Regions from separate parts of the Homo sapiens genome. Here region 1 is linked to region 2. Evidence: fine-mapped expression QTL. A gene starts in region 2. The other region holds a variant in brackets. All regions are shown on one strand. Distances are from middle to middle. Region 1 overlaps BMP2K (BMP2 inducible kinase). Region 2 holds the start of BMP2K (BMP2 inducible kinase).

Evidence for each region. PIP is the estimated chance that this variant, and not a neighbour inherited with it, causes the effect.
Region 1: its variant is fine-mapped to the expression of BMP2K in tibial artery (GTEx, PIP 0.91).

Annotation. Positions count from the first base shown.
Region 1 is chr4:78,907,408-78,910,319 of GRCh38, reverse strand. The region is part of intron 15 of BMP2K (BMP2 inducible kinase); the gene reads right to left. It also overlaps a transcript of PAQR3 not described here. Among named protein-coding and RNA genes, the nearest start is that of PAQR3, 31 kb to the left of the region's middle. The variant C/G (reference allele first, on the strand shown) is at 1,672.
Region 2 is chr4:78,774,907-78,777,818 of GRCh38, reverse strand. It overlaps BMP2K (BMP2 inducible kinase), which reads right to left and starts at 1,469. Exons shown (of 16, transcript NM_198892.2): 1 at 1,098-1,469. The coding sequence starts at 1,275. It overlaps BMP2K-DT (BMP2K divergent transcript), which reads left to right and starts at 1,849. Exons shown (of 1, transcript NR_186689.1): 1 at 1,849-2,912. RefSeq lists silencers at 565-765, 1,127-1,796, 1,887-2,136 and enhancers at 340-970, 1,603-2,233.

The sequences.
Region 1 (2,912 bases), 130 kb before region 2:
ACTAGCAAATTTTCTTCACCCCACCACCAAAATAACATTATTCTGCTAATTCTGAAAGCTCAGATTTCACATTCACCAAATACCTCCTGCTTATATTTCAACTCTTGTAAAGTTTTCCCATAGAGATCAACAAGCATGAACAGCCTGCCTGCTCAGTTACGTATTTGTTTCACTATTTTTTTAAATCAGCATTGTATTTTTTATAAACCACTATCTTTTGAATTGACTTAGCATGAATGGCCTCACCAAAGCTAAGGACCAGATACTAAATGGAGACTGTACCAAAAACATCTGCCTTCTCTAGATGATATGACTTCCTTTAATTATAATATCTATACATTACATTAAAAAAGCGAGATTCCTTTAAAAACAAATCTAAACCATCTGGAGATGTTTTTAGCTCAGAATCCATTCAGTCACTTCATTTTCTGAGTTCATTCAACGAAAGAAATATAGGGCACTTTGCTATACACTGATTATACATTGGTGAGTAAAAGAAACATGGTTTCTGCTTTCAGGGGTTTACAGTCAGAGGTTGTAAGTAAACATAAATTGTGACTAGTGCTCTGAAATAAAGGACAGCAGGGAAATGGGCGCATAAACCTACTTTGGACAGTGGTGAAGACCTCCCTAAGGAGACGACAGTTAGGATTGAACAATGAGAAGGAGCCCAGCCATGCAAAGGATAAGCTGGAAGCAGCTTCCAATAAAAGCAATGGCATATATAAAGACATATTTAAGGGGCTGAAAATAGGCTATTGTGGCTGGAATATAGTGAGCAAGGGAGGATCAGGTACAACATGAGGTAAGGAAGACTGGAAAAGGCCAGACTGTGAAGGTCCTCTAAGGCCATGATAAGCAGCGTATATTTCATTATACATCTAATTCAAAATTCCATGTATAATGGAAAGCTATTATTAAAATAGGTGTCATGATTAGGTTTACATAAAAAAAAATGACTGCTCTATAGAAAAACACTAAGGGGGCTGGGTGCGGTGGCTCACCCCTGTAATCCCAGCACTTTGGGAGGCCAAGGCGGGTGGATCACGAGGTCAGGAGTTTGAGACCAGCCTGGCCAACATGGTGAAACCCCATCTCTACTAAAAATAGAAAAATTAGCCAGGCATGTTGGCAGGTGCCAGCTGAGCCAGGAGAATCGCTTGAAACTGGAAGACAGAGGTTGCAGTGAGCCAAGATCGCACCACTGCACTCCAGTCTGGGCCAAAGAGCGAACTGTCTCAAAAAAAAAAAAAAAAAAAAAAAAGACTAAGGGAAGGTAAGAAGGGGAGTTCAGGCAAAAGGAAATTATAGTAATGCAAGTTAGAGATTTTGGTGGCCTAGATGACATGACAGTGGTGGCAGGGTGGGTCAAAGTAGAAAAAATAGAGATTGAAAACTCTTGGTGGATGGCAGCACCATTAACAGAAAGAAAAGAATGAGTGGCGTGATAGAAACCCATTTACCCTGATGTGATTATTATGCACTGTATACCTGTATCAACATATCTCATGTACCCCATAAATGTATATACCTACTATGTACCCACACACAAATTTTAATGAGCATAATTTTTTAAAAAATGAGTAAGTTGGAAAGTGAAGAGGAGTACTAAAAATTTTGTTTGGAGACATTAAGCTTGACATATGTGTGAGACAACATTTAAGTGTACAG[C/G]AGTTAGGTATCTGTGATTTGAAACCAATGGTTAGTTTTTGGCTGAAGAAAATAGATTTGGGAGTTATCACCATGCAGTTGGTATGCAGAGAGAGCCACAAGACTAAAGGGCATACCTCGGAAGAAAACATAGAAGAAAAGAAGATCCAAAACTGAGCCCTCAGTATAAAACATTCAGAAGTCAGCAGAGGAAGATGAACATACAAAACAAACTACAAAGTAACAGCCAGAGAGGAGGAAGAAAACAGCTGAGTGCAATGTCACAGAAATGGAGAGAGAAGAATGTTTGAGGGAGGTAACAGACAACTGAGCTGGATGGTGCAAAGAGGTCCAGTAAACTAAGGACATAAAATGGCCACTGGATCTGGTCATCTTGTATAGTTTGTTGGCAATGTTGACATGAGTAGTGGTGCTAAAGAATGTGTGGGAGACAAGTATGTGAAGAATACCACCAGGTTATACTTAATTGCAAATATAATCTTCTGTCAGTTCCTTAAAACCAGCCAAGAGCTACATGCTGTATTTGTTATCCTTCCAGATTAAAAGCAAATCAAATGCAGATTCTCAAGTTTGACTTCTTCCCTACACAGCGTATTTATGATATTAAAAACAAAGTTAATTTTAGTGAATTTATTTTTATGAATTTTTATTCAAAAGCAAAATATGGGAAGAAGGGAAAAATGAAAATAAAATATGTACGGTTCCAGAAGATTTCCCATCATCCCTGACTGTGAAACGTTTAACGTATTACTCCTCGAGCTGCATACCCACCCACAGCCACAACATTCACACCTCACGCCTGCTCACGGACACCTCCAAGTAACATTCCAATGTTGCCCAAAGTGTATTCTGCAGAGGCTATTTCCCTAACAAGAACCAAGACAAACAGTTCTGTGGTCTCAAGCAAACAAGTCTATGAAATGGTGCACTCTGCATTCTGCCTCCACTCCTACTCACCTGGAGTATGCTCATTAAAGGTGCTAATGAGTCCTACACAAAAGAATCTAATTTTATGAACCCTAGGATTTCCCAAATTGTCTTCACTACCCTTTTATTTACATGTAATGCCTGTTAACCTTTAAAACCAACTATGCAAAAGTACTTTGGGGAAATGCTGCTATACAACTTATCTTGAAATTTTCCATTTCTAGTTGTGTTCCTGAAGGTCTTCTGGAACATTTAACGTAGGACAGATAATTCATCTTGGAGAGTGTCACTTGGAAGTGAATTTAAATTCGCCT
Region 2 (2,912 bases):
TTTTCCCTTGTGCTAATTTACTGTTGTGTATAGCATTTCAAAAAATACAAGCGGAATCTCAGTCTACTGTTTTCAAACCACATCAACGTCTAACGCTCGGAGAACTGAATCCACTCTTCGATTTTTTTTATCTTAACCATAGAACTTAAAAGGGCCATTTATCAACAAAAAGTATTTCTTTTAAAGTGTTTATTTTGTAGTATCATTTTGCAACTAAAAACTCAAAGGCCAATGAAGCATGCAGCACACAGGGCAAGTATTTTCTACAAGGCAATTATGCCAGAAATACAAAACTAAATTCTAAGTTCTTCTTTTAAAATGGAGTAAACTTTTTTTGTAAGTAGACTTCTACCTGCCGTCATAACCTGTTCCAGATCATGAAGGACCGACCACAAAACCTCGTTAAGTGAAAGTTAACCTGCTTTTATATCACCTTTTAAACTACTATCAAAGAGACATACTGGGAGGGCATGAATAGCACCTTGTCCAACAGAGAAGATTCTAAATAACAAAGATAAATGGGCTCCAAGTTTACCTGCTCCTCAGTGCAACCTACTAACTGAATTTAGAGCAAAGGATCACCTCCAACACGCACACATGCACACAAATACATTGTTTTTCAACAGATGACTGAGCTGCAGCAAAGCCCAGCTTGACACCAGGGGCTGCAGGGTCCTATGCCCTGCAGCGCGGGTGGAGGCTTAGATGAAAAGGCCAACGCATGACACCCGTCTGAGCCACAGCTGGCAGAACGGAGCTTCAACCCTGTTCGATCTGACCCTCTAATGAGTCACTGGCCCAATCGTAACACCAACCCACTTCCTAGCCCGTCTACTACCTATTTTCTCGCGTCAAAAAGCACAGAAAATGATTTAAACTAGGCATGAGAGAACTGTGCACCGGCCGGGGCAGCCAGCGGCAAGAAAAGCCAGCTTAAGAGAGAAAGCCCGAGCCACTCTTTAGGAGCCCCCGCTGGCCCGGCAGCAGAGGAAGAATGGGGTATAAGAGTCAGTCCGGAGGGCGAGGACCCGGAGAAGCCGCCGCCACACCCCAACCCTCCCTCACCTGCCTGTCCGAGCCTCCCCGGGCGCCCGTACCTTCGGCCAGCGACTCTTCCAGGGTGACCTGGTGGCGGCCGACCGCGAACACCCGGACCCCCACGGACGAGCCGCCGGAGCCGCAGCCGGCCCCGGCCCCGGCCCCGCCAGCCCCGCCACCCGCCGCTCCGCCGCCGCTGCCGCCCTCCGACTTGGGCATCCGAGAGAACTTCTTCATGGTCCCGCCGGCGAGCTGGAGGGCGCAGGGAGCGTGCAAGGGCAAGTCCCCGGCCCGGCGCGCAGCCGGGCGTCCGCGAGGGGTCGCCGCCCCTGGCCCGTCCGAGCGTGCTGCGGCCCGCCAAGCCTCACATTCCGCGCTCCCCAAGCGCACAGCCTGGGCCCCGCCGCCCGCTCCGCGGCTCCGCTGCAGCTGCCCGGCTCCCGCAGAGGGCGGTGGGGAGGGCGGGGACGGGGCGGGGCGCGAGGGGGCGGGTCCGAATCCAGGGGCGACGCCGCCGCCTCCGCCAGTGCCCCGGGCGTCCCGCCGCCTCACTAAGCGCCTGGAGCGCGAGCCGGGGTAGAGGAAGAGAGCGAAAGAGGCTGGGCGGCCGGCCCCTCCAGGGAGTGGGCTAGACGTCTCAGGCCACAAACCCGCAGGACCGCAGCCCGTCGCGCCGCCGCCGCCCCGGCCGAACCCGCGCCGCCCGCCACTCGTGGCCGTTGGCGGGGGGGGGGGGGGGGCGCTGCTGCCAACCGCTCACTGAGGCCGGGCGACCCGCGCAGGCGCGCTGCCCGCGCCGCCGGAAGTGACGGTTCCGGCTCTTGTCACGTGGAGGGGGACCAAGGGAGGTGATTGTGGGGGTTGGGGACTAGGGCAAAGTCGGGGGTCCCGGGTCCGGGGTTGCGCCGGGAGGGTACTGGCCAGGCCCGACTTCAAGCAGGGAGGTGGCCCGGGACTGGCTCCCGCGCTGGTCACGCACCGGGGTCCGTCATCTCGACCGGGAGTCGCTGTGCCACTCTAGGGGCTTAAAAATGCCGCCAACAACTTTACCCCTGCTGAGGAACTTCTCGCTTCGTTTCTTAGCCAGTTTTCCAGGCCTTCTCCCTTGAGAGTCTCCTTCCGCTCGCCCACCCTGAGCGTAGGAGGTGGGAGCAGGACGGAACTGGAGTGGATTCCAGTAACTGGACTTCTAAACCGGCTCGGTGTCGTCGCGCTCTGTAGCGGACGCTTGTGCTGGGAAGCGTTTTGCAGTTTATAAATTACTTAGGAGTACTTTAAACATCTCACGCCTGCTGTACCACAGCCATGTGGGGGTATTCAGAACAGGTATTAAGGTCGTTTTGCAGACCATTCATCACTCTTGGCTAAAAGAACTTAACGGAGTCGCCCAAGGTCACACAGCTGGCTCGTGGTAATTGGGGACCATTCTTTGATTCATAATTTTGTGCTTTTGGCCACCCTGAAAAAGTAAGGTCAGATCGTTGAAAAACGGGCAGATTTAAGGCTGTTTGGAAGCAAAAGCGACCACTGCGTTCCCCTCAAATCAAAGAGATTTGCACCCCCTACCAAAAAAAAAAAAAAAAAAAAAAGCCCTGTTGTATCAATTTCATAAACTGCAGGAGTCTCCCGACTGCAGGGTGAAGCAACAAAATAAATATGGGTGTAAAACATTCAGGAGTGGTAGGGAATGGCAAACTGTAGAGCCTGTGTAAAGAGAGCAGCCAATTCTCAGCTCCAGCCTACTTTTCCACAAAAGAAGATAGGCACACACACTGTGCCCAGAGGTTCCAGTTTCTTAAGAGAACCAAAAACCTGGAACTGTTTTCTAATGTGGCATTTCCCTAATTTTTAAAATATAGATCAAATAAATTGTA